Linked DNA regions of Homo sapiens: region 2 is linked to region 1. Evidence: fine-mapped expression QTL. Tissue or cell type: prefrontal cortex. Region 1 holds a variant in brackets; the other region holds the start of a gene. All regions are shown on one strand. Distances are from middle to middle.

Region 1 (8,102 bases):
GTGCCTTTCAGGCGTTGCCTGAGCCTCACCTAGCCTGGCACAGGAAGCCTTCCTCAGGACCTGGGCGGGAGGCTCCCAGAAGGCAGTGTCCATCTCTAACGCAGCTTAGAGAGGAGCACTCACAAGATGAAGTCCTCAGAGCTCTGAGAGGATGATGATGAACCCTCTCCCAGCCTCCTCACTGCCAGCTTGTTCTCTGTCCACCCTACCCTCACCTCACCACCCCCCTTCGCCCCAGCGTAGCAGCTGCATGGTGACAGAAGCCGTGCCAGCTTGGGGCATTAGAAGCAAAGTTGCATTTACTGGGCGGCTCTGGGCTTAGAGAAGTGCACTAATCCCTTAAGAGATGTGTGGCAGGAGATGAGAGGCAGGGAAAGCTAGGGAGGAAATCCCCACGGGGGTGTGGGCCTGGCCCTCAGCTCTAATTCTCTCCAAAGATCAGGTTCAGGTCCTGCAGGAAATGCAGAGGCTCCGGAGCTTCAGAGGCAGAGAAGTGGTAATTAGGGGAGGATGCTTTTGACGGCAGCAACAGTTCTGAAAGCAAAGGGGAAGGGGATCAGCAGAGTCAGATAGGGAGGAAGCTGAGCTGTCCTCAGCTATCAAAGGAGGGAATGGGCCAGAGAGGGCTCTGCAAAGGGAATGCTGGGGCGGCTCTGAATTTCCATCCCTGTCAGACTCCCTGAGTGATGTCACATCCCTCTTTCCCAGGGAAACTAAGATCCCATGGATCTGGATCTATGCAGACTCCTCAGTAGGCCCCCTCCCATCTGGAGCAGATGTGTTGCCATCTCAGGGTAGCCAGACCCTAGCCCCTGGGCCTTCTTCCTGTCCCCTGGGCAATGGCGTGGAGGGCAGGGGAGTTCTCTAGCCTAGTACTAGCCCTGGGGGCACCTCGGTGCATTGCTGAAACAACAGATGTCATCAAGTCCTCTGCCTAAGTGAGGTCTTGAAGCCTATACTTAGCATCCTTCTTGAGAGTTAGAAATAGTGGAATGGGGCATGGTGAGGGGTGGGTTCAGGCTGGGAACCTCCCTTGAGCTAGCTGTGTGGCAGTAACTGGAGCCCCAGCAGAACCTACTCTTCCTGGAGTGCTTCCTTTCCCAGGCCCCAGGGAGGGGCAGGGGCCCCATCCTGCAGATGCTACAGACACTAAGGCTTCCAGCAGACCTGGCACACTGTGTTCAGCTCTGCAGATGACAAGGCAAGGTCCTCAGCCTGCAGCACTTGGGGAGGCCCAGCCTCCCAGTCTGGGGAAGGTAAGGCTTTGGGGTTCGTTCTTTCCATGTCAGACTTTCAGGATCCAAGACCCTTCTGGCTTACCGTGCCAGATCTTCTCTTTTTTTCTTCCCACTACAGGATGCTCGCTCTATGGCAGCAGCTGCTGCATCCCTCGGGGGACCCCGAGCAAACACAGTCCTGGAGCGTGTGGAAGGTGCCCAGCAGCGGTGGAAGCTGCAGGTGCAGGAGCAGCGGAAGACAGTCTTCGATCGGCACAAGATGCTCAGCTAGATGGGCTGGTGTGGTTGGGTCAAGGCCCCAACACCATGGCTGCCAGCTTCCAGGCTGGACAAAGCAGGGGGCTACTTCTCCCTTCCCTCGGTTCCAGTCTTCCCTTTAAAAGCCTGTGGCATTTTTCCTCCTTCTCCCTAACTTTAGAAATGTTGTACTTGGCTATTTTGATTAGGGAAGAGGGATGTGGTCTCTGATCTCTGTTGTCTTCTTGGGTCTTTGGGGTTGAAGGGAGGGGGAAGGCAGGCCAGAAGGGAATGGAGACATTCGAGGCGGCCTCAGGAGTGGATGCGATCTGTCTCTCCTGGCTCCACTCTTGCCGCCTTCCAGCTCTGAGTCTTGGGAATGTTGTTACCCTTGGAAGATAAAGCTGGGTCTTCAGGAACTCAGTGTCTGGGAGGAAAGCATGGCCCAGCATTCAGCATGTGTTCCTTTCTGCAGTGGTTCTTATCACCACCTCCCTCCCAGCCCCAGCGCCTCAGCCCCAGCCCCAGCTCCAGCCCTGAGGACAGCTCTGATGGGAGAGCTGGGCCCCCTGAGCCCACTGGGTCTTCAGGGTGCACTGGAAGCTGGTGTTCGCTGTCCCCTGTGCACTTCTCGCACTGGGGCATGGAGTGCCCATGCATACTCTGCTGCCGGTCCCCTCACCTGCACTTGAGGGGTCTGGGCAGTCCCTCCTCTCCCCAGTGTCCACAGTCACTGAGCCAGACGGTCGGTTGGAACATGAGACTCGAGGCTGAGCGTGGATCTGAACACCACAGCCCCTGTACTTGGGTTGCCTCTTGTCCCTGAACTTCGTTGTACCAGTGCATGGAGAGAAAATTTTGTCCTCTTGTCTTAGAGTTGTGTGTAAATCAAGGAAGCCATCATTAAATTGTTTTATTTCTCTCACTTTCTGGTTTTTAAGAGATTTAGGGAACTAGGAATTTTTCACAAGTGACCTGGTAAATGTAGTATCCCAGAGGGGACAGAGAGCATTGCGTTTTGCTAGGTCCAGACAGGCAGAGCCTTGGGAAGTCCAGGCGGCCGTGGCAGAGCCAGCCACAGTGCAATCAGGCCAAGGCCACGGCTTGCTGGAAGTCCTCCTCACCTGATTAGGAAAGAGGTGGGTAGGCTGGGGCAAGGAGCACAGGGTGAACTGGCCCTTGGGAGTTATCCTGAGATTTTACTTCATGTTTATGGGCAGTTCCTCTGAAACTGAACAGTGCGTGATTCATCCTAATATCCTACAGACACAGTAAATAGCGCTCCCTGCAAAACCTGTAAGTATCCCCAAATGAAAACCAACAGGTATTTGGAGAGGGGTGGGTGGGGGCAGCTAGAAAACGAGCTGCCCCATACAGAAGGAAATGCCAGCAGCTTCAACAGGGACATCCAGGGGAGCCCGGCACTGCGTCAGCTCCAGTATGGATGTGCGGTGCAGGGCATGTCCAAGACCCAGGCAGAGGCAAGGCATCTAGAGGGACTGAGCTGATCTGGTGTCATCAGGGTTGTCCAAATAAACATGGATTAAGAACCTTTGTGGGCTGGGCGCGGTGGCTCACGCCTGTAATCCCAGCACATTGGGAGGCCGAGGCGGGCGGATCATGAGGTCAGGAGATCAAGACCATCCTGGCTAACACGGTGAAACCCCATCTCTACTAAAAAAAATACAAAAAATTTGCTGGGCATGGTGGCGAGCACCTGTAGTCCCAGCTACTCGGGAGGCTGAGGCAGGAGAATGGC[A/G]TGAACCCGGCAGGCGGAGCTTGCAGTGAGCTGAGATCGCGCCACTGCACTCCAGCCTGGGGAACAAAGCAAGACTCCGTCTCAAAACAAAACAAAACAAACAAAAAAAAACCTTTGTGTGGGCCCCCATGCTGGGTTCTTGGAGAGGTGTGGGAGGCAAGAGAACGACGTGAGATGGGGGGTCAGTTTGCAACAGTTTGCCAAAGTTCCAAGACAGAAGCGTAAAGGGGATGGGACTGGGGTGACCTGCAGATGGGGCTCCCAGGAGGAGCAGAGACTCTGGTTGGCATTGGAAACAAGGGACACAGCTGAGAGGGGACCAAGTGGATTGTGGGGTCCTGAGCAAGTGCACTTAGGAAGTTTGTGGTAGGGCTAGCAAGCGATAGATGTGCCCCCAAATGCAAGGCTGGGACAGAGGAGTTGGTGCTGACAACATTTCTACTGGGTCATTTACTAGACAGCTGCTCAGTGCCTACCAGGGTCAAGTACTGCTGTGGAAGCTACAGTGGGCTATTTTATTCTTTCAGGATGGGGATGCTCTTATTTCAAGAGGCATACAAAAGCAGCACTTTCCAAAGGTGGGCAGGTGGGTGTATTAACTTAGCAAGAATAACCAGGCCAGAAATTGGTGCCTAACATTGCCAGGTCTCCCCTGTAAAACCACATGCCCTGGGGGAAACATTGAGTGCTATATTTCTCTGAGGCTTGGGTAAGTCCTGCAGATGATCCAAACTGGCTTTGGTGGTTTTTGGGACAACTGTTGTTAACTATAAATAAGCCGAACTATAAGTCCAGTATATGAACATTTATAAAAGATTAGGAGTGACTGTTCACTTTACTAAGGATTCAACTAGTAACCAAACGTCTCATTGTGTCTCAACTTCACACACACAAAACCCGATTTTCAGACGATGGCAGAGTACACTTCATCTTTCTGTGAATATGAAGGGGCGGAGATCCCCAGCAAAGGGGTGAGCACACTGCTTGGCTGGTATTTGGAACAGAGATGAAGACCCCTGCAGCCAATGATGGAAAAGATCAGAAATGACGTTCTTCACCCTGTCTCGTATGATGTAAAAGGAACAGAACTTGGCTGGGCATGGTGGCTCACGCCTGTAATCTCAGCACTTTGGGAGGCCAAGGCGGGCGGCATCACGAGGTCAAGAGATCGAGACCATCCTGGCTAACATGGCGAAACCCTGTCTACAAAAGATACAGAAATTAGCTGGGTGTGGTGGCGCCTGCCTGTAGTCCCAGCTACTCGGGAGGCTGGGGCAGGAGGCTCGCTTAAACCAGGGAGGTGGAGCTTGCAGTGAGCTGAGATCGTGCCACTGCGCTCCAGCCTGGCAACAGAGCAAGACTCCGTCTCCAAAAAAAAAAAAGGAACAGAACTTGGTGCTGTTGTGTTCAGAATCCTGTCTTCCCTCAAACCCACCAACCATGCTGTTCTGTAATAGATTGGTCCCACCTGGAAAAACAACTGGTTGGGGTTGGCCCTGGGAACCTGAGCCTTAAGAATTGGTCTCCACGATTAGAGACCAGCACTCATCCCTCGTGTGGCTCACAGGGAGGCTGATGGAGAGGCCAGCCTGCTTCCTCGTGGCCTTTCCTTCATTTCTCACCTAGCCCGACTTGGTCCTCCTCCTCCTCTCGTTTCCTGGCATCCATTGTTACACATCTGCCAGCAAAACCCCAATCCCACCCAGTCTGACTTCCCTGCTCCTCCCTGGGCAGCCCAGTGCTGCCACAGAGGCTGAGGGTGCCCTGGCAGGTGCATGGCCTCCACCCCCTCCCTTCCCCCATGAGGGCCAATAATCCTCCCATGAGGCTCACTCTTGAGGCCACTAGACAACCTTCCTGTCTCCCCGTCTCCCTTCCCTAGAAAATCTTGCTTATGACTTCAAGAAAATGGAGTGATTTCTTAACTCAGCCCCATTGTTAAATCATTCTTCATTCATACTCATCCTGACTGCCTTTGCTACAGCCTTGGGGATAGTGTGTTCCTGTTCAAAGCCAACCGCCCACCCCATACTGCATGGTATTTCCATCATTTCTCCAACCCCCAATACTGTCTGGGACCTCCATTTCTCCAATCCCCCCTGCCCAATACTGCCTGGGACCGCCATCATTTCTCCAACCTTACCCTATTTACTGGCACTTCTCCTCAGCCTGGTAACATGCTCAAGTCTTTGTCCTGAGAACCTTCCAGGGGCTCCAGGTCCACCCCTGACTACAGTGGAGTCTCCTCCCTGTCTCTGTGCACTCGGTCATTCACCCCCTGCCAACTGACCTTGCCCTCCACGCTCCTCTGAAACTGCGCTCAGCAAGGTCACAGCTGGCTCTGGGAGCGCCAGGCCCAGAGGGTGTCTTTGGTTCTTGTCCTTCTGGCCCTCTCTGCTATATTTGGTGGTGTTGATCCTCCCTCCATAACACTCTTCACTTGGCTTCTGGGACCTGACCTCTTGAGCCTTTCTGACTGTCCCTTCCTGTCCCCATGAATGTTGGTTTCCCAGGCTTCCATGCTCAGCCTACTTGGCTCTATCTAAAATTTAATTTCTAAGTACTCTCTTTGGAAGTTTATTCTGTTTTGCAGTTTCATGGCGTTTATTCATCTCTATCTCTAGCCCGGCCCTAACCAGCCCCTGAGCTGAGCCCTAACCAGCCCCCAAGCTGCATAGTTGGACTGTGCCCCTGAGCACCCCAAGACCAAGATTAAACTCATCTTTGTCCTGAAATTGGCTTATTTTATATATAATATATATTTATATATTGTATCTATATACAATTTATATATTGTATCTATATACAATTATATATAGATACAATATATAAATTATAATTTTATTATATATAGTACATATGTTTAATATATATTTAATATATAAAATTATGTAATTATATGTAAATATATAATATATGTATACATGATTATATAATATAATATATACATGTGTAATATATATTTATATATAAAATAAGCCAATTATATATTATAAAATAATATAGATGTTATATATAATATTTATAATATACATTATATATAATATAAAATAATATATGTTATATATATATTTTTTGAGACAGAGTCTGGCTCTGTTGCCCAGGCTGGAGTGCAATGACACGATCTTGGTTCACTGCAACCTCCACCTCCCAGGTTCAAGTGATTCCCTGCCTTAGCCTCCGGAGTAACTGGGACTACAGGCACGTGCCACCACACCTGGCTAATTTTTGTATTTTTAGTAGAGACAGGGTCTCACCATGTTGGCCAGGCTGGTCTTGAACTCCTGATCTCAAGTGATCCGCCTGCCTCAGCCTCCCAAAGTGCCGGGATTACAGCTGTGAGCCACCGCGCCTGGTGGCTTCTTTTATATTCTTAACTGGTGGTACCACCACCCACCAAGTTGTTCAGGCCAGAAACCTGAAGGTCATCAATTCTTGATTCTTCTCTTGTACAATCACTCACAACGTCCCACCAACTTTACCTCCAAATAGTCCTCAAATCTGTCCCCTCCCCTCAGCCCCTGTTACCACTGTCCCAGTCTTCCCCATTTCTCACCAGATACTGCGGTTCTTGTCAGGAGTGCCAGAGAGTATGCTTTTAATCAGACCAGGTCACTTCCCTCCTTCAGAGCCATCAGGGGCTCCCCATTTCCTAAGGCGTGAGTTCTTTATTGAGACCTGTAGGGCCTCAAGGCCATGTCTGCTCCTCTGGCCTTTAGCCTCAGAACCAATTGGCAGGAGTCTTGGAAGTGAGGGAATTGGAAAGATCCTCCAGATGTGTGCACACCTAAGTGGGTGTGGGGTCTTGAGTACCAGGCAGGCAGTGAATCCCAGGCTGCCCCATGAGGCTCTGTGTCCTTGGTAGGAGCTGCCTCATCTCCCCACCAGCTCCCACAGCTCAGGCCCTGCCCTAGGGGATGAGGCGGGAGCTGAGCTTGAAGAAGTGATGGAAGCGGTAGAGGGGGGATGCCCCAAGCCAACATTTACTGTCTAACACTGGAGCATGTGTTTCCCACTGCACAGGCAGTGCCTGTGTGGCTGCAGGGAGTCAGTAGGTGCCGTGGACAGAGTGTGGTCCGAAAGCCGGAAGCCACCTGGGTTCTCAACCCAGCTCTGCCCCTTGGCAATGCCTGAACCCCTTTTGAGCCGGTTTCCTCATCTCTAATAATACCAGGCCTCAGGGCCTAGCCTGTAGTAAATCCTCAACAAATGAGGTGCTGGGGCCTAAAGCTCCCTAAATGACCAATCTTCCACCGAGTAAATTAAGTGGCGTGGCTAAGAGCACGAACACTGAGCCCAGTACCCTGGGCATAAATCCTAACTGCCACTTACTAGGTAGGCAGCTTAGAGTAAATATTCAAACTCTATATGCTCTGTTTCCTCACTGCAAAATGAGGCTACAACTACTGACTGTGTTGGGTTGTCGGAGGGAGTGCATTGTGAATGTGTATAAAGCACTTAGAAGAGTTCTGCAGTGTAAGCGCTCAGCAAGTGTCGGCTGTTCTTGGTCACGTCACTATTATTACTATCACCACATAACCTCCAGCCATCAAGTCAAGGTTCTGCAGATTCAACAGGGACTTCCTACTCAGTGTTACCAGGGGCGCTTTAGGCTCCAGAAAACCCTGACCCCTCAGCTAGATCCCACCCTTGTTGAGGTCCAACTCCACACTTCCAGGTGGGGCGACTTCTCCTCCGGCTCCCCTGCCCTGAGGCGTGGAACTGAGCATGGAGCCAAGGCTGCAGGCAGTGCTGGCTCTGAGGGCGCCTGAGCTCTTGAAGGTTTGGGGGCTCCTCTGATTCCTGCCTCCAGGTGGACACGGAGGCCAAGGCTCCAGGCTGGGAGTCGGGACCCCTGACCCTGGCTC
Region 2 (8,102 bases), 22 kb before region 1:
GTTATGAGACACTGGACAGATAAGCTTCAGTGGGGATTAGAGGAAAAGCAGGGGCATATAGTTGATGCCAGGGAGAGTAGACACCATTTGGGAGTGATGACAGCACTCATCCCCTATCCAGGAGCACCAACGGTAGGGACAGGGAGTGAGGAAGAACCCAGACCCACAGCTGTGGCACGGATGCCAAGACCTCGCCTCATAAAGTCAAACTGATTTTAGGGTTGTTGGATAAAAGCAGGTATGAACTAGAGGGTATGGGTTTTGGCCTGAGTTCTAGAGCTCCAAACTTGGAGGCAGGATGAAGGCTAAGTCCTGAGAGGAAGCAGTGGAAGGCTCCAGAGCTTCCTTAGGCCTCCTCTGCTGGGGAGAGTGCACTGCTGATGTTACCTGGTCTCCACCCTCTCACTGAGCCCCGAGCCAGGGGCTCCCGGCTCCCTCCTGGCTCACATTCTGACTCTGATGTCACTGAGCTCCCTGCCTTCCTTTCCCATTCGCTTGTCCTGGGATCAAGACAAACTGAACTGTTGACTCTTTCTCTACATGTCTCTCCCTGAACTTCCCCAGTCCCATCTCTTTGCTCTCCCTACACTGCCCCTGCCCCCGCCCCCACCCCCCACCAGAATGCCCTCCTCACCATCACCCTGCTCTTGAATTGTGCCTCAAATTTTGCCCACCCTTCCTGGCAGTATTTGTTTCCCATGGCTGCTGTCACAAATTACCATAAACCTGGTGGCTTCAAACAACACGAATGTATTATCTGACAGCTCTGTAGGCCATAAGTCTGACGGAGGTGTTCTCTTGAACTAAAATCAGGGTGTCTACAGGGCTGCATTCCTTCTAGAAGCTCTAGGGAAGAATGCATTGGCTGGCCTTGACCAGCTTCTGCAGCACCCACAGTCCTTGCCTGGTGGCCCCCTGCCTGCATCTTTGAAGCCAGCAGCATAGCATCTCTCTGACCCTACTTCCATGTCCATCTCCTTCTCTAACCACAGCCAGAAAAGGTTCCTCTGTTAAGGAGCCATCTAATTAGATTGGGCCCACCTGAATAATCCAAGCCACTCTCCCCAACCAAGGGCCTTAATTTATATTTGCAAAGTGCCTTTTACTGTGTAAGACAGTATTCACAAGTTCCAGGGATTAGGATGTGGACATTTGGGGGTGCGACATTGTTCTGCCCACCACTCTGGCCCAGCCCAAGTAGCCCTCACTGCCCTCAAAGCCCCCTCTCCACCATTCTGGGCTCCCCTGGCCCTTGGTCTAGGTTTCCCAAGTGCCTCTGCAGCCTTCCCCCAGCACAGCTCTTACCACCCTGAATTGTCATTGCTTGTTGATTTGTGGTTTTCTTGCAATAAACTTCAAGTTCTGTGGGAACAGGGACAGGGTTTGTCTTGTTTACTGAGATATCCCCAGCACCTAGCACAGTGCTCAAAAAATTTTTGAAGGGAAAAAGCATTTCTGATACGGGAGATAGAAATTATTTAGGCAGATAGCAAGGACAAAAAAGTCCTTGGCAGAACTTCCCTTCTAATAAGAAGCAGCCCTAGAAATCATTTCTTTTCTAACACAGAGCAGCCTCAAAGATTGGGCTGCAAACATATATAAGGAAGCTGGAAGCTTGCACGGAGGAATGCTGGCAGCTGCACTCATAGAAAAGGGCTACCGGGGGGCCAGGCATGTTCACCATGGGACTCCACCTTCCCTTTTTTGTTAGCACATGTACAGTAAGAAAGAACTGGGCAACATGGAGAAGCTCAGGCAGAGAAACCACCTGCATAATAAAGATTGGGCTGGGAGCTGCCAGAGATTTGTGCCCTATGCAGATGGCACACCTGGTGCTAACTTTTTTTGAGATGCCCTGTATAGATGAGATACTGCCTCCCCACTAGCTCATCTATAAAACCCCCTGCATTTCACCTTAAATTGGCAACTCATTTTTCCAGGACCCCTCTCTGTAGCAGAGAGCTATTGTCTTTCTTTCACCTATTAAATTTCCACTCTTAACCTCACTCTTTGTGTGTCTACCTCCTTGATCTTCATGGCCAGGAGACAACAAACCTCAAGTGTCACCACAGACAACAAGGCTGCTTCACTTCTACAACACATCACTTTCTATGTTACATTCTGACCATGTGATTGGTCTGCTATTAGGTTGTGCATTACTTGAAAGCAGAGTTGCATGTGATTTGTCTGTTGTATCCCTGGGGTACCTAGCATCTGTGAGCCCTGGAGTTTGGCTCACAGATAGTGCTTGGCACATGTTTATGGAATTAAATTTAATGAATAGGTTCAGACTCACTTCACTGGCATGGCTCATAAACACAGGGCACATGGAGGATGTATGGGAATGAGGTGCCCTGGGTCAGGTAGGACTATTTGGGAAAAGCTTCTGCAAGGCAAATGCTTGGGCAAAGATTTGAATAAGATGAAAGATAACGACTGGCAGTGCTGGGGGTGATAATGTCCTATGGAGGACTGCAATGAGCAAAGTCAGATATAGGGACAGCCGGTGGGGGGAGTAACCAGTGATGAGATGGGGTGGGGAAGTGCAGAAATGGTAACCACTTGGCTTGGTTGCCAAGTGGAGGGGTCTGAATTGGATGCAACAGGGTGCTTGCTACCAGGGATTGAGCAATGAGCGATGTGCTGAAAACAGAATTGGAGGAAGACAGGATGGACCTAGGAGCACACAGGAAGGGAGTGCATTTCAGGGAGCAGAATGCTAGCCGAGGAAAGATACAGGCAGGGTGATGATAGCTACCTCCTGGGGACACCTGGATAGACAAGATGTGGAAATATGAGAGAGGAGTCAAAGATAGTTTGATGCCACAATCTAGGACCTGCAGAAATGCAGAATGACAGTGGAAGGCCTCCCTTCTGTTTGATGAGGAAGATGGTGAGCTCAGCATTGGGTATCTTTAGTGTTGTGTGTCAGAGGGTCATCCATTGGAGGTGACAGACTCAGCCCCATGCTTTTGTCCCCATGAAAGTCCCACCTTCATATGGAACGTATATGGGGGGAAGAAGTGTCTTTTTCCAGTACTTGAACTATCCCTTCTGCCCCCACGAGGTAGGCATTCTGTCTCTGCCTGAGCTTGCTCACCAAAGCAGCCATTCTGACCTCCACAATGAGCTAACATTGCCATTTATAGAGCCTCCCTCTTTGTGTCAGATGCTGTTCTAGGTGCTTTGCATATGTAAACTCATTATATCCCTACAACCACCTTGAAAATTTGGTAATATTAATCCCATTTTATGGGCATGGAAACCGAGACTTCTGAAAGGATTCCAAAGACTTCCAAAGATCCAAAGGCGGTGTCCTAAAGGAAACCACCCAAATTCACACAACTAGGAAGGGAGGAACCAGGATTCCTGCCCTGGTCACTCTAGCTCCAAAGCCCCTGACCTTTGCATCACACTGCAGGCCTCCTGCCCCTGCCCCCTGCCAACTAGATTTAATTTAATTCTATAGAATTCAGTTTAGCAAACACTTCCTGAGCACCTACCAAACACAGGTCACTCTGCCAGGTGGCAAGGATATAAAGAGGAATAAGACATAAGCATAGGAGAGAGGAACACAAACTCAGTGGCCTCCAGATAAGTGCCCACCTCAGTTCACAGGGCCTGCGAGGGGCTTGATTCCACCTGGACCCAGCCCCTATGCTAATCCAGCCACCAACCTCAAGTTTGGGCCATATTGATACCCCTCCCACCCACCCCTAAGGAATCCCAACATATCAAAGCTGAAGGGGATCTTAGAATCCAACCGAATCATTTTACAGATAAGGGAAGTAAGGGAAGCTGAGGCCCAGAGAAGGGAGGTATCTTTTCCAGGCTAACACAGCTGCTTAGGGGGAGCGCCAGGGCCAAAGCCCCGGTGTCCTCACTCCGGGTCTGGTGCCCTGAATTCATATGACTCCCCTTTCCTTCACAGCTGGCAAGAAGTTCACATCTGCCACATAGCAGCCAGGGACCCTCACCCCTGCATCCTGGCCATGCACACTTTGCCCCATTTTGCCAGGCCCAGCACCAGCATGGGGTAGGGGGATCAGGCTGAGGACGCTGTTGTGCACACTCTTCACAGGCCCAGCCCACACCACCCATCGCCAACCCTAGATTTCTCCTTCTCAGAGGTGTGTGTAGGGGTAGAGACGTTGCCGCGCAGAAAGTCTTCTGCAGCAAAGACGTGGATCCCTAAATAACATTTCCAGATTTTGAATGAGGACAAAGCCCTTCAATCTCGTATCGTTTTTGTTGACGTTACTAGCTTACAGTGTATAAAGCGCTTTCTTTCTAAAACAGCAAGATGAAACAAGCTGAGTTTTATAATACAAGGAAGGGAGAAGCACCGCAGTGGGAGTTCTCAGGCCACACAAAGGCAAGACCCTTCCCCAGGAGTTTGGAAGGCTGACGTTCCCTTTTCTGGTTTGGTCGGGTTTGAGAAATGCCCGCCTCTCCCTTGCGCAAGAGTCTCCCCGCCCAGGTGAAGGCGGGTCTTGTTGCCATGGCGACAGCGCGGTCGGGTTAAGGGGCTGCTCTGGCAACCAATAGAAGCTAGGAGAGGGCGGGGACAACTGGGTCTTTTGCGGCTGCAGCGGGCTTGTAGGTTCGTGGACGCGGCATTGGGGGAGGGGACGGGGGTCGCGGGGCTATTGGGGGTCCCAGTCCGGCTTAAGACCTCTGGGCGTGGTGGGCACCGGCCTTCGCCGTCGGAGCAGGGGTCCCAGACTCGCACCCAAAAGTTCCCGTCGGGCCCGAGCGGGGAGGAGCTGCGGGGCGGGCAGAGGCGGAGATGGCGGAGGGCGGTGGGACGTGATGCGCGGGTCAGAGCCGGGCCTTGAGAAGGAACTGGAGGCCCCTGGCAGCGGTGTCCCCTCGAGGACCCCTCTGCCGGGCTCACCAGGTGGCTGGCGGAGAGCCGGAGAGTTGGGCGGGAGGGAAGCAGGGTTTGGCGACCAGGTTTAGCAGGCCTTGGAATCCTGGAGCCCAGCCCCCAACCCCATTCCCACTTGGCCGGATGGTTAAGGGCCTAGCGTGCTGGCTGCGGTGTGGCCACCTTCCCCTTCTCCGACTCCGTATCTCTTTTTCCAGGTGTCCGGCTTTGCTGGCCCAGCAAGCCTGATAAGCATGAAGCTCTTATCTTTGGTGGCTGTGGTCGGGTGTTTGCTGGTGCCCCCAGCTGAAGCCAACAAGGTGAGGGAGGTGAGCCTGCAGCACCTGGTCACGACCACAGTGCACGGCCACCCTGTCTACAGGGCTGACTCAGAGGTAGCCAGCTGCTCCTTAAGCCTGCCTCTCACTCACCTATGGGCCATACTTCTTTTAGTGGTCTTCCTTCAGGTTCAAGGCTGCTGGCCTCCCTAAGGATAGTGCGGGTGAGGAGTGAGGAAGGGTGGGGCACAGAGCACTGGCTCACTCTGATCAGACAGATCAGTGGTGGACTTCCAGCAAGGAAGTTTGGAGAAGTTATCTAAGTTCTCCATACCTTCCTTTGCTTTGGACCAAAGTATGTTTTGTTTCAGATATTTTTGGATTTGGGAGTATTTGCACATAAAAAATGAGCTATCTTGGGGAGGGGACCTAAGTCTAAACCTGAAGTTCGTTTATGTTTCATATATGCTGTATATACATAGCCCGAAGGTAATTTTATACAATATTTTCAATAATTGTGTGCATGAAACAAAGTTTATCTACACTGAACCATCAGAAAGCAAAGGCGTCACTATCTCAGGCACCCATGTGGATAGTCTGGTTGGTTGGCATCACCACCATTCCTGACAATGAATTTATATGCTACCGATAAATATTTTCTTACGTTACACATAAGTTCTTAACGGTAAAAAAATATGATGTACTATTAACACAGTGAAAATAAATGATGTGTTCAGGGTAACTAAGCACAGTAGCATCACCAGAATACCTGTATCAGCTGTTAGACACAGCAACATAAGGCTTTCTGTCTCCTGCTGTGATGCTGTGTTTTGATTAAAGGTTACTGTGCACAGTATTTTTTTAGGTGAGAAGTAGTATCTGAAGCAGTAGAGGGACCAGAAAGTGGGTCCTCTAGAGATGAGGAGGCATTCTGCCAGATGGCTTTTAAAAATGTTTTTGCCAGTCACCTGATTCATTAACAAGCTTTTGTCTTAGAAGTCTCTTTGATTTTATAGACTGACACGATTTCTTGTTCTGTTATGAATGCGCTCTGCTATAGTCTTTCAAGAAGCCCGTCACTCATTGTTACCATGTCTGTAGGTGCTTTTCTGCAATGTTAACATCATCTTTGTGGTCATGTCTGTGCTTAACAAGTTTTAGATTGGGAGCATTTCGAATTTTTGTTTTAGGGGTGCTAGTACTACCACCTGTAGTAGCAGTTGTATCTATTACTCTGCTTAGGGAGAATCAAATTACATGACAATGTAAAAATGCCCTGTAAGTGTAAAGTCCTATACAGTTTGAAGTTTCCATTATTAAGGGTGACCCACCTAAGTTCTGGGACTCCTGAGATAACTTCCATTCTTTATTGCTACATTCCTGTGGAGCTGTTTGGGTAGATCTATGGAACTAAAGATCATCCAGACTTTGAAGTAAGGTTAAGGCTGAGAGTTTGTTTCCATTCTCTCCTCAGAAATCCTAATTAGTAAAGACATTTATGGTGATATCTCTTACTCATTCCAGAAGGGAAGAACTTTCAAAGGGGTTGCTTGAGTATTCCCACAGAAATGATCCACTTTTTCTTATTCACCCTCGCCCTTTATGTTTCCCCAATCCTACCTAAGAAGTTGGAGAAGGAATGTGGGGAAGAGGGTGGCTGCCAAGTCCACTGGACAGAGGTGCACACACAAGTGTGGGGTCTGGGGTAGAGGACACACACACACACACACACACACACCCATTTCCCCTCATCCCTCTCCCCGCATTCCTCTAAGTACCTGCTTTGGGACTGGCAGGCCTAGACAACTTTCTGTGAGTCTCATTTGCCATCTGGACATTTTTCTATCTTTAGGACCCGGTGCTGCAGCTTGCTTCCTACAGTGGCAGTCCTTGCTGGATTTGAACTTGGGGATGGAGAAAGCTCAAGAGCATAGATATGGTTCACCTAACAGGATGGGGAACAGAAAGTTGACAACCTTGCTAGAGCCTGAACCCCCTGAACCCCAGGCAGGGTCTCTGCATACTTGACATGTGCTTTCTTTTCCAGAGTTCTGAAGATATCCGGTGCAAATGCATCTGTCCACCTTATAGAAACATCAGTGGGCACATTTACAACCAGAATGTATCCCAGAAGGACTGGTAAGGCATTACACGCAGGCCCCTGGCTGCTATACCCAGTTGAAGTTATGGGTGTTTACTAGAGTTCTTGGACCCTGGAGGATAAGCATGCTCTCCCATTCCTATGGAGAGCCTTTCAAAGGAGTAATTATTCATGTCACAGAACCAATTTCATAGTTGTCAACTGTCTGTGGAAACAGGATCCAGGTGTCTGAATTCCAGCTGAGTGGTCCCTGGCTAGAGGAGTGGATTTTGTTGTTTTGCTTTGAATATTGGTCTTTAGTGATGCATACAGAATAGTAGTAGAGAAGTTGGCAAAGGTAGGTATTCTGACCACATGCTGTAGGATACCTAATGCTTTTGCAAAGCTGTGTTACATGTGTTATTCTGTGCCAGTCTTATAGCATCCTTGTAAAGTAGGTGGGATGGATTTTGCTCCCATTTTATAATAGCAGAGACAGAGGCCCAAAGAAATAATTTAGAGTGTTGAATTCATTTCTGGGTACCTCACTTTTAAAAAGAGAAGAATAACCCAGAATTCATTCAGAGAAAGGAGACTAGTGCGGTGAAGGGAAGTTTTAGCACATTGTCCTGGAAGGAATGGTTTAAGGAAGCAAGGAAAGCCTAAAGAGGAGAGGACTTGGGGACACACGATGATTGATTGAAAGCTGGCATGTTATGGGAGGTGGGACATGTGGGAGCAGGTACTGGTGTGGATCAGTTATGTTCAGTGGGGTTTCTTGGTGTAGAGTTGGGGCCAAGGATAAAAGCTTCAGGGAAACCGACTTAAGCATGAGTTGAGGGAGCATTTCTAATCTAGGCAGTTTTGGGAGCCA

What was found. PIP is the estimated chance that this variant, and not a neighbour inherited with it, causes the effect.
Region 2: it holds the start of TMEM9, and the variant in region 1 is fine-mapped to the expression of TMEM9 in prefrontal cortex (CommonMind, PIP 0.95).

Annotation. Positions count from the first base shown.
Region 1 is chr1:201,129,070-201,137,171 of GRCh38, reverse strand. It overlaps TMEM9 (transmembrane protein 9), which reads left to right. Exons shown (of 5, transcript NM_001288565.2): 5 at 1,357-2,400. The coding sequence ends at 1,509. Among named protein-coding and RNA genes, the nearest start is that of ASCL5, 5.9 kb to the right of the region's middle. RefSeq lists a silencer at 2,419-2,625. The variant A/G (reference allele first, on the strand shown) is at 3,235.
Region 2 is chr1:201,150,946-201,159,047 of GRCh38, reverse strand. TMEM9 (transmembrane protein 9) reads left to right here and starts at 4,574. Exons shown (of 5, transcript NM_001288565.2): 1 at 4,574-5,190; 2 at 7,196-7,287. The coding sequence starts at 5,125. RefSeq lists a silencer at 4,498-4,777 and an enhancer at 5,188-5,337.